Regions from separate parts of the Homo sapiens genome. Here region 2 is linked to region 1. The links come from fine-mapping of genetic effects on gene expression. Tissue or cell type: monocytes. Region 1 holds a variant in brackets; the other region holds the start of a gene. All regions are shown on one strand. Distances are from middle to middle.

Evidence for each region. PIP is the estimated chance that this variant, and not a neighbour inherited with it, causes the effect.
Region 2: MAF starts here. The variant in region 1 is fine-mapped to the expression of MAF in monocytes (TOPMed, PIP above 0.99). The same link has a PIP of 0.9 or more in whole blood.

The regions. Positions count from the first base shown.
Region 1 is chr16:79,468,184-79,476,291 of GRCh38, forward strand. It overlaps a transcript of MAF not described here. Among named protein-coding and RNA genes, the nearest start is that of MAF, 130 kb to the right of the region's middle. The variant A/G (reference allele first, on the strand shown) is at 4,467.
Region 2 is chr16:79,596,228-79,604,335 of GRCh38, forward strand. MAF (MAF bZIP transcription factor) reads right to left here and starts at 4,510. Exons shown (of 2, transcript NM_005360.5): 1 at 2,558-4,510. The coding sequence starts at 3,675. LOC101928230 (a long non-coding RNA gene) reads left to right here and starts at 4,660. Exons shown (of 3, transcript NR_188556.1): 1 at 4,660-4,762; 2 at 5,820-6,123. RefSeq lists an enhancer at 4,425-4,719.

The DNA of each region.
Region 1 (8,108 bases):
ACATACTCACGAGAAGGTACAGGTGAAATGGGGTGAGCTCCTGATTTATGACACCCACGGAGTCCCCAGCAGCCCAGGCGTCCAAGAAGTGCCTTCCCCTGTGTGATTTACTGCTGCCCTGGGCCGGCCAGACGGCACTGGGGGGATGCCCCTGCCTGTGTCCAGCCCTCAACTAAAATGCTGACTCTGCTTAGATCTCCTGGGTGAGAGGATTAGCACTTGGGGTGTCCTCATGGCAAATGTGTCCTCTGGAGGGAGCCAAGTCCGTGGAGGGTGGGAGACCTGCTCTTGTTTGGCCCGTCTGCTCTTGCCTCAAGAATGTATTTTGGTGTCAGTGAACGACTGCACCTGCTGTCCCAGAAACAGGTCTGGAGCAGCCCCAGCATGCTGCAGCCTCAGGGCAAACCTGGCCTTAACCTGCTCAGCCCCAGCTCACCCTGGGCAGGCCAGGGGTGTTGGCATTGAGGGGCAGTCAGAGTCTGCCAGGATGGTGCAGACAGTGGTAACGTGGCCCCCATGCCTGGGAAGTTTCAAATCCTTTGGGGTAGAGGAAGGGGGTGGCTGAGGATAAGATAATCCAGGGGGCAGAAAAGAAACCAGAGAAGCCAGAGAAGCTCCATGGAGCATTATAAATCACCCGGGCTATTCTTGTCCTTGGTCAGGAAGGCTACATGCAGGAGACCCTTCTAATGGCGACCTCTTGTACTTAATCCTCCTGCTTGCTTTGATTGCCTTCAATCAATCGTGGGCTCACACTTCCTTTTTAATAGCCATCTTCCATATAAAGAGTGATGTTGTTTGACAAGCAGATGTTTTGTAGAGGCTACAAGCTGTCCTTATGCTAGCAGGCATTTATTCCTTAGCCACCCCACACCCAATCATGTGTCCCAAGTGCCCAAGGGCCCAACTCATGCGTTCCTCTAAAGCAGAGGTTGCAAACTGGAGCCCTGCAAGCCCCATCCAGCCCACTGCCCATTTTTGTAAATACAGTTTTATTGGAACATAGCCATGACCGTTCATTTACATTGTATATGGCTGCTTTCATTCCTCAATGGCAGAGTTGAGCGGTTGCAACAGACAGTCTGGACCACAAAGCCAAAAATATTTAATATCTGTCCCTTTACAGAAAAAGTTTGCTGATTCTTACACTAAATAAATGGTGAGTGGTTAAAAACATAAGCTCGGGATTCAGACAGATCTTGTTTGATGACCAACTCTCCCGCCTATTACCTGGGTGGCTTTAAGCAAGTAGTTACCTCTCTGATCTCAATTTCCTCCTCTATAAGTAGAGATGATAAAATTGTCTACTTCATTGAACAGTATGAAGATGAAACAAATTACAACTGAAAAAATGGTCATTGCAGAGCTAGGTATTTTTATATGCAAGGTCTCATTTATTTATTTATTTATTTTTAATTTTTATTTTTTTCTGAGACAGAGTCTCACTCTGTTGCCCAGACTGGAGTGCAGTGGCGTGATCTCAGCTCACTGCAACCTCTACCTCCCAGGTTCAAGTGATTCTCCTGCCTCAGCCTCCTGAGTAGCTGGGATTACAGGTGCCCGCCACCTTGTCTGGCTAATTTTTGTATTTTTAGTAGAGACAGGGTTTCACAGTGTTGGTCAGGCTGGTCTCGAACTCCTGACCTCGTGATCCACCCACCTCGGCCTCCCAAAGTGCTGAGATTACAGGCTTGAGCCACCGCGCCTGGCCTACAGGGTCTCATTTAAACTCATAAACCACCTCATGACAGGGCACATTTTGTTCCCATTTTACAGACATAAGTTATCTTAAGTTTAGAAAAGTGAATAAGGATGGGAACATATAATCTCTACCTCGCTCAGAAACGTGCGGTCTGCTCCTTCTGCTCGCCATCCTCCAGGCTCTCAGGCCATGTCAGGCATTTGTAAAGAAAGACATTTCATCACAAGACCAACACTGGCATTTTTCCGGGATGTGCTTACATTTGGAACATGAAAAATGTCCCAATAGATCACATGAGCGGCGGAGATAGGAACTCTGGTTCTGAGGAAGTGGGAACTTCCTTGAAATGTCCCTTTCCTTTGTCCTCTGAACCCCAACACTTGCCCTGCTCGGATCCTTGCCAATGAGGACGCCCATCCGCCCTTTCCTGGCAAAGTTAGGGGATGGGTCCAGGGCAGGTCATGTTACTGAGCCCCCCCAGGGGCTCAGCTCAGAGGGCCCAGGGGACCAGGATGGCAACTAGGGCATGGCAGAAAGAGCTGCCCACTCCACTGTGGGCTAGAGAAACAGCTAGGGAAGCAAAAGGCCATGTACCAGCCCCCACCACAAGTTCCTGGAGGGCAGGTCCATATCTTCCAATGCAAATACAAATACTATTACTAAACAACAGCAGCCAACTCATTCAGGTACTGTGCTAAGCATATTTTATTTAGTTCTCATAGCAACCCAGTGGAACTTACTGGGTATTATTCTTCCCATTTATCAGCTGAGAAAACTGAGACTTAAAGAGTTTAAGAATTGGCTTCATGTACTACAGGAAAGACAGCCAGGATTCCATTGTCCAACACGATGCTGGGGCCATAGAAGGCACTCCCTCTTGAATCTGTTGAATGGGTGGATGGATGGGTGAACGGATGAATGGATGACTGAAGTTTAGCTGACGCCAGAACTAGTGTGTTTTACTGCTATTTGTCACCATTTCTCATCCATCTCTGTATCCCAAGAACCTGATGCAGTGAGAGGCACTCAAATTATTCAGTTAACTGGAAAAGAATGAATAAAGTATCTTATATAATGCATGGAAGATGGTAGCAATGAAAGCTACCATCATCGTCATGTTCATATCACATCACCTCCCACCCTAGTCTTCACCATCATTCTTGCAGATGTGTGTTTAATTACCAGGTCCATGCCATCTTTTAGGTACACATTTGCTGGACTTTCCTACCTGGCCTGCCTTCCTGCTGACCACTCCCACGCCTGTGGAGGAAGGAGGCATACCTGCAGGGTAAGATGGAGAGGCAGAAGGAGCAAGTTCCTGTGCTTTACAGCAGAGCTTCTCTACCCATTAATCTGCTTACTTTTTTCCTTATCTTACAGATACAAAACATCTAAGCAGTCATGAAGAGCACGACAGAACCCTCAACTCCAAATTCTCAGCACTCCCTGTTATTTTTTCACACTTTCCAGATGTAAAAAACTAAGGTTTAGGCAGAGCACAATGGCTCATGCCTATAATCTCAGCACTTTGGGAGGCCAAGGCAGGCAGATTGCTTGAGCCCAGGAGTTACAGCTCAGGCTGGGCAACATGTCTTTTGTAAAGACAGGCTAACTCCTGTCTCTAGAAAAAAACCCACAAAAATTAGTTGGGCATGGTGGTGCACACCTGTAGTTCCAGGTGCTAGGGCGGCTGAGGTAGGAGGATGGCTCCAGCCCTGGAAGCAGAGGTTGCAGTGAGCTGAGATCATGCCATTGCACTCCAGCCTGGGCATCACGGCAAGGCACTGTCTCAGAAATGCAAACAAACAAAAAAACCCAAACAAGTAAAAAAGCCCTGAGGTTTGCTGATGTCATAGTGTTTGCCTAGGACAGCTGATAAGTGGTCATGTCAGGAATGTCACTATATAGGTAATCCAATTTCTTCTTTATTGATCTGTATTATCAAATTTTCCATAATGGGTACAATAACAATTATTGTTAGAAGAAAAAACTTTTACCAGGTGATATGAGTGACATCACTGACAACTTTGGGGAAAATGGCCTTGCTAAGTGCAGACATGCTTTCTCCCTCATGCGTAAGACAAAGTGTAGCTTTCTAGTTAGGAAAGACTCCACAGCAATTTTTCCTTGCTTCTCCCCTAATGCTGCAGGCCTTGGCTTCAGCCTGACCTCTCTTTCCCTCTCTTTCCTTTGCTCTGGAATGGTTTACAAGGAGCCACCATATGTAAGCATCTAGATCAGATTTTATGGAAATATTTAGATGACTCAAATCCCCAGTCAACCCTCAAGCAGCTCAAAGGCTGATAATGGAGAGAAGAATAAATATATTACAGGGCTAAATTGACAAAATGCCATTAGAGACCCAGCAATTCCACTCCTGGGAATCTACCCAAGAGAAATGAAGATTCGTGTCTACATAAAGACTTCTATGTGAATTCACTCATAAAGACATTATTCATAATAATCAAAAAGTAGAAATATCCCGAATGTCCATCAACTACTAAAGGGATACCCAAGATATGTTCTATCCATACAATGGAATACTATTCCATAATCAAAAGAACAAAATACAAATGCATGCCACATCAGGGGGAAACCTCGAAAAGATATACTAAGTGAAAGAAGCCAGGTACAAAGAGCAATGTTGTATGATTCCATCTCTTTAAAATGTCCACTGTAGGCAAATTTATACAGACAGGAAGTAGATGAGTGGTTGCCTAGGGCTTGGAGGCAGAGAAGAAATGGGGAGTGACTGTTCATGGGT[A/G]TGGAGTTTCCTTCTAGGGTGTAGAAATGTTCTAAAATTAGAGTAGGGCGATGGTTGTACAACTCTATACATATACAAAAGCCCATTAAATGTCACACTTTAAATTGGTGAATTTTATAGTAATGTATATAAATTGTACGTCAATAATGTTAGAAAAGAAGGAAAGAAAGAGAGAAAGAAAGAAAAAACCCTGCCATGGAGAGGGAACAAGCAGTAAAAGAGCATGAGTTCCTGTCCTGGAGAGATTTGGGTAGTCAGTGATTGAATGGGTGTGTACCGAGGCCCGGTACCATATGGCGCACCAGCCAGTGTGAACACAACACAATTCTGTCCTATGGAGCTTACATTCTGGTGGGAAGGACTGACGCTAAGCAAATAAATGTACAGACTACAGGTTGTGATAAGGGGAACGAAGAAAAGTAGAGTGAGGGGACATGGAACTGGGGATGCCTTTTTTGATGGTGTCGATGGCCATCTGGTCGTTCACACCCCTGGCTCAGCGTAGGGATAGTCCAGACACATCGTGGGAGGAACAGCCACAGGCAGTCATATCCTCTGTGGAGGGGGAGGGAGTCCTCATTTCTCTTTGCAGGTCCCAGATGTCTGCATGCCCACAAAAGGAATGAATGGAGGAACTCTCTCAAGATGCCAAAATCCACGGTGGCAACCCAGGCATTTAATATAACAATGATTGTTCCAGGAACTTCACTCCTTTTAACAATTCAGGGTCCGTCCTAGAGGAGTGGGGCTACCTCTGGGCCTCTTGCAGCAGGAAGGACACAATCATAGCCTCTCATGGGTGCAAACAGCAAGCGGATGTTGCCCTTTGCAAACAGTTGGGAAAACCATAAAAAATGCACAGCCTTTGCCAAACAATGTCAGATAAAATGGCATGGAGAGAGGACACATCTACCAGCCTCCTACCCACTGCACGATTCAGGGCATGCAGACCTCAGCCTCTCTCCTGAGTTCAGCACTCCAGAGCAGGCTGTGGAAAGGGCACGGGGTGAGCATGTCTTTATGACATTATTGATTTATTCTCCACCTGCAGTTAAAAACCATGCCCAGACAGACAATAAAAATAAGTACTTAACCGTATCGCAAGCTCTGCCGACTGAAATGGATTTTACACTTAAAGATACAGCTGATCTGGGTGAGGGCTTTAATGGCACTTTTGAGTTTTAAATTTAAAAAAAATCAAATCTTTGGAAAAATTAAATGAGAAATCATCAGTGTTGCCCTTTGTGGGATTCTTCTCATAACGTCTCCAGGCTCAAGGGATTGGGGGTTATGGTTTATAAAGTGGTCGAGTGGGGAGGAATTACGGCAGGTAGTTTATTTAGTAGGGATGAGCATTCTTATGTCTATAAGGAAAGGGAGAGGGCAAAAGACAGAGGGCACAGGAGAGAGGAAGATGGATAATCTCCTAGAAGGAAAGAGGCAGGGGAGAGGAAGAAATGATGAGGAAATAGGAGAAGGAATAGAAGGAGGTGGAGGGATAACCTAGAATTATTTGTGGTCTTTAAATTAAAGCTCAAGGGCTACCCCCTCCTCCAAATCTCTCTACATGGCATAGAAGAAAATGATCCTGCTGGAAACCTTAACGCATTTTGTATTCGCCTCTTTGGGGGAAATTATCCTTGCCTGGTTGTACTATTACCATTTATAAAAATGCCTATCTCCCCTGCAAAGGGCAGAAATCATGCTTGATGAATCCACATATTTCTATCCCTCATATGTATTAAATGGTGAGAGATGGCTGAGCAAGTGCCTGGCTGGCTGGGCAGACAGACAAGCCAGCAAGGGTGGATGTTAAAATCCGAGGCAAGGGGAAGGGAATGGTGTGGGCTCAGGTGCTTTCTGCCAAGCCCAGCATGCTTGCTTTCGATCCCCATAAAAGGCTGATAAGGTTGGGCTAGGAGACGTGCAGGGAGAGCCTCAGGTGTTAATATAAATGGGTTCAAATCACAGCGTTGGAATCTGTCTGTCTGATACCTCATTCTTTTTCTTTTTTTGTCCCATCTGGATGCCACACTCCTTCTTGTTGAATATTTATTTTTTGCTGGTGAAGGAGGAAATCCTTGAGCATGAGCATGACCCAGACCTACTTTTTGGAGGCAAGAAGGGACCATCCCATGTCAGGAAATCAAGGATAAGATTCCTCCTCACCCCCATTCTGAGCCATGTCTAGAGCCTGTTGCCATCACTGTATCAGGAGAGATCTAAAAGCAAAGGAGTGTGATTCACCATCATCTAATTCAAATACACATCCTAGCAACTAGAAATGTGTGCATTAATCCAACAGAGATCAAAGAACCTCCCATGCTTTGTAGACACTGTGCTGGTAGCAGAAGATGTTCATTCTGTCTATCGCTAACAGTAAGGCAGTGCACACATGGCCTTGGCCTCACCAGGCATCCCGACCAAAGCGCTTCTGGAAGCCTCCTCTCCAGGGCTTGTGCAGCTCAGCAGTGTCCCTTCTCTTTGCCTTTGTGGCATCTCATAATAAACACAAACTCGAGTTTAGAAGAATTGGAAGGAAGATTAACAATTATCCGTTGCTAACACTCTGCCAGGTATGGTCCTAGGTACTTCCTAGAATTAGCTTTAAAATAAAATAAGAAAAAATATATATATTATTAATTAATTCTCAGACCCACATATATATGTGCATATATATATGGAGATATATATATATATGTATGTATATATATGTGTGTGTGTGTGTGTGTGTATGCAAGAAAGAAGTAGATTTGGGAGGCAAATCCAGGTCTATGTCCAGGATCTTAAACGAACAATGCACTTCACTCTTTCAAATATCCATGTACACTTTATATATTTTCAAATGTCTGTGTATATTTTCTGCCTGTCTATCGATCTATCTATCCATCTGTCTGTCTGTCTATATGGCTCTGAGTAGGAAGGAACATGAAAGAATTTCCTGGGGGAGATGGAGATGGAAATATTTTAACTATTCATAAGGGTGTGGGTTATGTGGGGCTCATTTCTTTGTCAAAATTGGGCAGCTAAGATTTGTGCATTTCAATGTATATAAATTTCACCTTAAAATCTGTAAAAATGAATAAGGATTAAGTGGGGGTGTGGAGTGAAGCAAGAATGGCAGAATGACAACCATTCTTAAAGCTGTGTGATGAGTTCATGAGGGTTTGTTACACTTGTTGCAGGCAGAATCCTAAGACGACCCCTGTGTGGCCTGTGCTCTTGTAAAATCTCTTTCCCTTGAGTGGGGTCAGGGCCTGTGAATATGATGGGATATTATTCCTGTGATTATGTTACATTAGATAGAAAAGGTGCAGGGATATTTTTCAAATGTAATCAAGGTCCCTAATCAGTTCGACTTAATCAAAAGGGAGATGATCCTAGGTGGGCCTGACCTAACCAGGTGATGGCTTGGAAGAGAATTTAAGCTTCCCCGAACTCTGAGACTCAAAGCAGCAGAAACTTTCTCTTGCTGGCCTCAAAGAATTAAGCCTCCATGAGTTTTTAGCTGGAAGGGAGTTCTGTCAATAACCACGTGAGCTTAGAAAAAGACCTGGAGCCAGAGATGAGACCCTCTTGATTGCAACCTTGTGAGTCCCTGGCCAGGGAACACAGGTAAGTCATGCCCAGGCCCCTGACTCA
Region 2 (8,108 bases), 130 kb after region 1:
GCTCAACTCATTTGAAAACTGAAAACTTTGGGGAGAAAAAAATGAGGTCATAATTTACATCTATATTAAATATTGCTAATCAGTATATGGGGCCAGCCTCCTCACTTCAAAAAACAGCCTATAATTTCACCCTGAATTACTGTCTCCCTATTCCTCCAGGAATCCTTCCACTGGAGAAAAGGATGCATTTTACACTTTTAACGAGGTTGTTGGGCCCAGTTAAACTGTACACTAAGAAACTGAGTACAGAATCAAAAAAAAATGCCGTTTATTATTGTAGATTATTCTTTTCTTGATATAACCAGAATTGAAAATGAAAGAAAAGCACATAGGAACAACACGCGTGGTTAGTTAGTAACTCAAGATATAAAACAATTTTGCACAGCAAAATATGTAAAAGAAAAGTAACTGACAAGATTTTTTTATATTTATTGTGGTAAGATTTACTTTTCATTTCTTTTTAAAGACAGGATGTCAGTCCCTGAAAATAACATTTACTGATTATTGCCTTTAAAACTGTGGATTTTTTTTTAAGTTACAGAAAATCCAGTTCTGCACCACAATACAACTGTAAAAAAATCTGCATCATCTTAAAACTGTGCAGTAATGCCATTTTTATAACTGCATAAATTTTATTAGCGTTCTAAACAGTTTTGCAATTTTTTTTTGTATTATATGCTTGCAGGTTATATCTTAGTGCAATTCAGTCCCAAATACTTTAATTTTGAAAAGAAAAAAAAACATACATTTTTGAATGTAAAATACCCCTACAGATATAAACAGGGGCGTTTCCCCTCTTAATACTTTGGTTTTCAATACAGTCAGTGGTATAGCAAAGACTACACATACCCAACTTATATTTAAGTTGCAAGCACATGCTGTATAAGCTACTTTTTTTAAACAGTCCCCTTGCAAACTCTACCCCCCTTAACATCACAATAGTAAACAATTTAGTGCATCAATCGTTTAAAAAATCTACAGCTAAACAGACCTAACTCTTTCAAATTTATCTATAACATTCCTTTATCTGTAGCATACATTTTAACTGGGCTAACAGATTATAAAAACTAGAATTAAATTATATACTAGAAACCCAGAGCATTCCACATTTGACAATGACCAAAAGCCAAAAAATATAAAATAAAAATAAAACAAACCAAAAATAATGGGGCAGTTTCTCTTTTTAAAAAATAAATTTTAGACTGCTTCTCGGCAATAGCACAATTTTAGTCCCCAAAGTGGGGCGTCATTCTTATTAAAAAGAAAACATTAAGAGTTCTTCAATGTTTGCCAGGTTAAATGTGTAACCCATTCTGGTATCTTTGACAAGGAATGCCTTCAGTGCATTGGGAGGTTGAAGTTCTGAGTAACTCAAAGCAGTTTTGGAGCAGATGCAAAATTTCATGGGAAGAAGGCTCTACGGTTGCACTGTTTTGTTCTAAACTCAAAAAAGTCATGAGGCAATAAAACAAAAGTATGAATGCCATGCTATAAGTCTTCGAACGTCCATTTCCAAGCCAAAAGGAAAAAAAAAGGAAAAAATAATTATACCATACATGTCCAGCATGCAGGCTTTTTTTTTTTATTAATATAATGTCTCTTTTCCATAAAGTCTTTGAAACAGTTATAGTTCATTGTTGCTAAGACAAAGTAGCAAGCATAATAATGCATGAGATGAGAATGAGTTTTTTTAATGGCAGACTAAACTCTCAGATTTGGCATCACAAGGCCAAAACTCACAAGTCACACCCAGAAGGTTGATGCAGGCTTGATTGTGGAAGGTTCATGAGGATTTTTTTCTCTATTTTAGCATAACAATGCTAAAAAAAAAACCCGATGGAACTCGGCACGCTGCAAGTCTATAACATTTCACATTTTTTTTTCCTTTGCAAGCTCAATCTCACATGAAGAACTCAGGAGAAGAAAAAAAAACTTTGCTTTTTTTTTTCTTTCATCTCGGAAGAGATGGGTTGAGAAGGAGTGAGGGTGGAGGTTGGAAAAAAGGTGGGCAACACAGCAAGCTCTAAAAGTAAAATTAAAAAAAAAAATCCAAACAAAATAAAACACACACACACACAGAAAATGAACACCAGTTCATGAACTGAAGGGGAAGAAGAAGAAAAAATATGTGAATGATGCAGGCTTCAAAGGTGATCAACGTTTCACATGAAGAACTCTGCTGAGATCATTGAACATTGTGCAAGTCCGGGGGTGGGGCGGGGGGGTGTAAAAAAAAAAAAAAAACAAGCTAGCAAGTTATGGAGAATTTCAGATTGGCAATCCATGAGCCAGACACCCATTCCCTCCCCAGTTTAAAACAGCCACCACCACCACAAACTCGAGCAGGGTGTGGGGTGTGTGTGTGTGTGTGTGTGTGTGTGTGGTGTGTGCGTGCGGGTTTGTGTGTGTGTAGGGGGCCAAGGGGGCCAAACTCGGTGGGGGTGGGGGTGGTGAGGTGGTGGCGAGCATGGCTCTAGAACTAGCAAGCCCACACCCGAGCCGGACCCCCGCGGAGCACTTATCAGGGTGGCTAGCTGGAATCGCGTGTCAGACTCACATGAAAAACTCGGGAGAGGACGGGTTGTCGCTGCTCGAGCCGTTTTCTCGGAAGCCGCTGCTCACCAACTTCTCGTATTTCTCCTTGTACGCGTCCCTCTCGCGCACCAGCCTGGAGATCTCCTGCTTGAGGTGGTCGACTTGCTGCAGCAGCTGGTTCTTCTCCGACTCCAGGACGTGTCTCTGCTGCACCCTCTTGAAGCGGCAGGACTGGGCATAGCCGCGGTTTTTCAGGGTCCGCCTCTTCTGCTTCAGCCGGATCACCTCCTCCTTGCTGACCCCGCGCAGCTGCCGGTTCAGCTCGCGCACAGACATGGTCACCAGCTGCTCGTCGGAGAAGCGGTCGTCGAAGTGCAGGCCGCCGGCGGCGTGGTGCGGGTGCAGGGCGCCCCCCGCCCCCGCCGCGCCCCCGCCGCCTCCGCCGCCGCCGCCGCCGCCGCCGCCCCCAGCGCTGGCCGGGCCACCGCCGCCCGCGCCCCCAGCGCCACCGGCCGAGGCGGCCGCGCTGCCCGCGGCGCCGGGCGCGCCGGCCGTCGGGTGGTGGTGGTGGCCGGCGGCGTGGTGGTGGTGGTGGTGGTAGTGCGGGCCCGCGCCGCTCTGCGCGGCGGCCGCGGCGATCACGGCGGACACCACGGCGGCGGCGGGGCCCATCTCCTCGCCGCTGCCGCCCAAGGAGGCGCCGGCACCGGCCCCGGCCGCCGCGGCCAGCTGCTGCGCCCCGCGCGCGTAGCCATCGAAGCCGCCCTGGAGCTGGTGGCTGTTGCTGATGAGCGCCTCGACCGCGTCCTCGGGGCTGAAGCCCAGCGCCTCGGGGTTCAGCTGCTGCGGGTAGCCGGTCATCCAGTAGTAGTCTTCCAGGTGCGCCTTCTGCTCGCTGCCCGAGCCCGGGCTGGGCGCCGAGAAGCTGGGGGAAGGGGGCACCGAGCTGCACGGCGTGCTCATGGGGGTGGAGGACAGCGAGCCCCCGGCGATGAGACGGCCGCACTGGCTGATGATGCGGTCGGTCTCCACCGGTTCCTTTTTCACTTCAAACTTCATCAGATCGAAGTCATTAACATATTCCATGGCCAGGGGACTGGTGGGCAGGTCGGAGTTGCTCATTGCCAGTTCTGATGCCATTCTCCTGCCGCCGCCGCCGCCGCCGCCGCCGCTCCGCCAGATGGGCTGCAGGAGAGGGGCCAGCGGGCTGTGCTGGGTGGCCAGCGGGTGAGCCAGCTTGCCGGGCTGGGGCGCTTCTAGCTTGCGCGGCGGTGGCTGGCCCGAAACCTCCGAGCGCGCTCACACACACACCCCCCCGCCCTGCCCGCGCCCCCCGCGCCCGCCCTCCCTCCCCCCTGCTCACGCCAATGTGCTCCCTCGCTCGCCCCGGCCCCTCCTTGCTCGCTCGCCTCCTTGCGCGCCGAGCCGGCGGCTTCAGGCTCGGGAAGATCCTCCGCGAGCTGCGGTGGCGGCGGTGGTGGCTGCGGCGGCGAAGCTGGAGGAGCCCGGCCCGGTGCGCGGCGTCCCCCGCTCGCCGCTCCGCTGCGCGCTTTGCATAAGGAAGGGCTCGCCTCGCCGGCCCGGGCTGCAGGCAGGGCGCGCGCGGCGTCCGCTCGGGGCTGGAGGCGCGGCGGGCGTCTGTCCGGGCGGCGCGGGCCTTGGCACGGGGGAGTTAACACTTCATGCTTCTCGCCTCCTCTTCTGCTTGGCTCTCTTTATTATTTTTTTTCTTTCCTCTCTCTCCCTCGCGCGCTCTCTACCTCTGTGCAAAGTGCAAGGCAGAGGTGCAGCCCGACTGGAGGAGAGGGAGGGGGGAGTTTAGTTCTTTCTTGCCTTTTTTTAAAAAAGCAAAATAGCGAAGTCCTGGGGAAAGACGAGGCAGAGAGCAAAGGGGGGAGGGGGAGGCCAAGCCGACAAGCAGCCCGAGCTACAGCTAGAAGATGAAAAAAGATTTTAAAGCCTCTGATCCAGCAAGAAGAGTTTAAAGCAATTGCTGAGTTTTATAGCACTCGTGACGTCAGGTCCAAATGAGAAATTGACTGGCACTCCGGGCCAATGGGAGGCGGCGAGAGCGGCCGCGATTAGCATAATAGTATAGAAACAAGGAAACTTTTCGGAGCTGTCAATCAGGGCCCAATCAGCTGACTGTCAGCTGGGACGGGCTGGCTTAACCCTTCCTGCGCCGCTGCCTACCCGGGAGGGAACGAGGCCCGGCGCAAAGTTTGGTGTAAGAGGGGAAGGAGTTTTTCCAGAGGGGCTTCGGCAATCCGGGCGGACCTGGGAGGGCGGTTTGCTTTTCTTTGGAGCGCGAGACAGGCCTCCCATCCGGAGCCCCAGCTCGCTGGGGGCTCACTCGGCTGGGATTGGCCTGATTCCCCTCCCCTGCCTGCCCTCCACCCCCAGGATTGTGAATTCGCCTCCCAGCTTTTCCTCCTCGCACCAACTCTGGTACCCAGGTGTCTGCCGGGGACCTTCCTTCCCTGAGCCTGGCCGTGCCCGGCGCTCAAACTTGGCCCCAACTCTTTGTCCGTCTCTCGGGCGCCCGTGCGGGGAAGGGACCGGGAAGGGAGGGATGCAGTGGGGTGTCCGGATCGGGGCTGCGGGCTGGGCGCCGCCCGGCCATGCGCCTGCCCAGAAGGCTGGGCATCCGTGGAGAGGGAAAGCCCATTTTATCCCTCTCTTTACAACGAGGTAAAATAAGTTGTTTAGAGGCCATTCTTCACGGAGACCGGCTGCCCGCTGGCGTCGCGTGCCCTTGGACAGAGCGAGCGCCTATGCGAGATAACTCCGGGGAAGCTCAAAGTCAGGTCAGCCGGGCTCAGCCTTCCGGCTCCTGACTGGCCGGAGTTTGGCCTTTGAGACTCATATTGCGCGCTCGCTCTCTCTCTCTCTTACACACACACACACAAACACACACACACTCACACTCACCCGTCCCCTTACGAAATCTGACCTCTGTTTATCAGGGTCAGGCGCGCCCTTTGCACTTTTACGTTTCCTTTAATTATTTCGGACTTGATCGTGGCAGGGAGCAAGGGGGAAAAACAATACCCCAGCCCTCACCAGCTACCCTCGAAGGGTTAAATTTTAAACCGCGGTTTCTGGAACTAGTCCGGAAACGCAGAGTGGGGGGTGGGGTGGGGGAGGCTGCTCCCCCCACCCCCAGTTGCAAATGCTAATAAGTAGTTCAAATTTCTAGATTGATTCTCTAAAAGTTTATGCAAAAAAGAAATAAAAAAGAAAAAGAAAAAAGAAGGAAACCAACAACTAACTCTGTTTCTAAGATTTTAAAGCGATAGGCAAGTCGAAGAAGCAGAGATTTATTTGGAGAGAAAGCTCCTGAAACCGACCCAGCCTTTGGAAGACCAGCCCGTCTGCTTAGAAGTTGGGACTGTTGATTCCTTCAATTAATGAAATGCATTTGGTGTTTTTAATCGTATTTATTTTACTTTATGAGAAGGGGGAGACGCTAGGAGGGTGCATTAAAAAAAAAAAAAAATTCTGAAAAGCCTGCAAAAGGATCGAAGAGTGGAAACTATTGTTGGAGCGAGTTGGTTTTTACCTCAACAGCGCCACCTTTCGGCAAAGGTCAGTTGAAATTGATCCGTGTCCAGTTTTGTCGATGAAGTGAAAAGCAGCTGGTTACCCAGTGTGGGAGGAGGAAAGAGACACACAAAGTTAGTTTGACTGAAGTGGGAGAACCCGACCCTATAGGAAAGGGGCCGAAGAAAGTGCTGGCAGATGCAGAGATCATTTTTGCCCCTCCTCTTCTCCTTGATTGTTGACAAAGAGGCCAGGGGATACAGACACCCTCGGGGTGTAATTTCTGGCTGAGACCTTTGCAAGAGGATCCCCATGTAACAGGGCCCCAAACCCTTTAAAAGTGCCAGGATGGATTTTCAACGGGCTTTATGGCAATATCAATAGGATTAAAGTTACTTGTAATTCAGTGATAAATGAGATGTCTCTAGTAAGTAAGATTAAGTGCAGTGCTATAAAGTTGTTTATCTGGAAAGTAATTCTCAGAAAACCTGACTTCTGACACTTAGTCATATATTAAGCCAGCGTCTTGAACATTGCACTTCAGAATGGTCTTCCCCACCCCGCAGCATGCTTTGCTATTTATAACCTCAGGTGTCTCTCACTCGTTCCTTGCACCATATTAGACCTGTGTTAATTTCTCTGATCCTAGTAGACTTCAGTTTCAGCAAACCCAGGAATCCTTAATGGAAGACTTCCCAAAAGATTCGTAGGCACACCCTAATCTGAAAAGGGCAGCGCTGTCGGTATTTTTCAGACAAGTAGTGTTTCTTTTCATCGTGACTGCAGAGAAGTTGTTAATAAGGGTAGTTTTGGTCTTATAAGAGCATTTTGTTGGGTGGAATAAACTATGTCTATTACCAGTTTGGGGAAGAAAGAGTGAAGATTATGTCAATATTTATGCAACCTAGCAGAATTCCCTTGCTTTCCTTCTCTTTAACAATATTTTCCCTAGTAATGAAGTTAAGGGATTATAGTTTATTTAGAGGAAAATCCACACTTTCCATTACATAAGCATTATGTCATTTAACATTGCCCGTAACAATAGTTTTCTAGGTCTTTTTAAAAGTCAGTAGTCACAAATGTAGGAAGTTTATATTTTTCATGTAAAATATGAATTTAAGTGTATTTAGAAAGAATTTATTGTTTGTTTATGATATACTTTTAATCCTTTTGCATCATATTTGTGTTAAAAGCTGTAAGGTATGATCATTGCCTCTGAAAGCAGTATTATAATAAATAATAAATAATATTTTATACACAAAGTTTGCTAATGATGAAGACTGTGCCATACACATTCATGGCTGAGTATCTAATTGTTACATTGTTATATATCATTTCTAGAAATTAAATGCCCATGTTTGGGCAGCTAAATATATTATTATCTGCACATTTTTATGGTTTATTTATGTACACTGCTGTGAAGACATGGTATTTTTATTTCTCTTATTGCAAGGTCTTTTATAGTCGCCCATTTTCTCTTGGAAAAAAAAAAGAGAGGATCAGAATTATTTTTTTAGATGTGTAGCAGTAATGCTCTCAGGCTTATAACTTAATTCTCATTTTTATCCTTTTTACATTATTATTTAGTGATTCACAGGGGTGTCTAAACATTTACAGTTCTCTGTTAGCAGCATTTCTTTTATAACAATTGAGCTCTCTCATTTTAATGAGTACTATTCAGGTTTTTGATTCTGTACAATTACAGTGGGCCACATGTCTTTAGACTTCTTTGCTAACATTGTTTGTTTCACTTCTATCCAAGCCAATCTAATCCAAATACAATGTGAACTGTGTTTTCTTACTGCTTAACATCCCCTTGCTATATATACTCTAGTAATCTCTGTAGAACAATATACAGTAATTTAGAAACCATGCATTTGTCATTATTGACCAATTCGGACCAGTAGTATTAAAGTTTTTGAAAGCAATGAATATTTATAGGAGATTTGTGAGGGGGAGGAGGACATGGGTTACATCGCATAGAATATTGTGACACAGTAACATCAGAAACACAATTATAGTTTCACGTC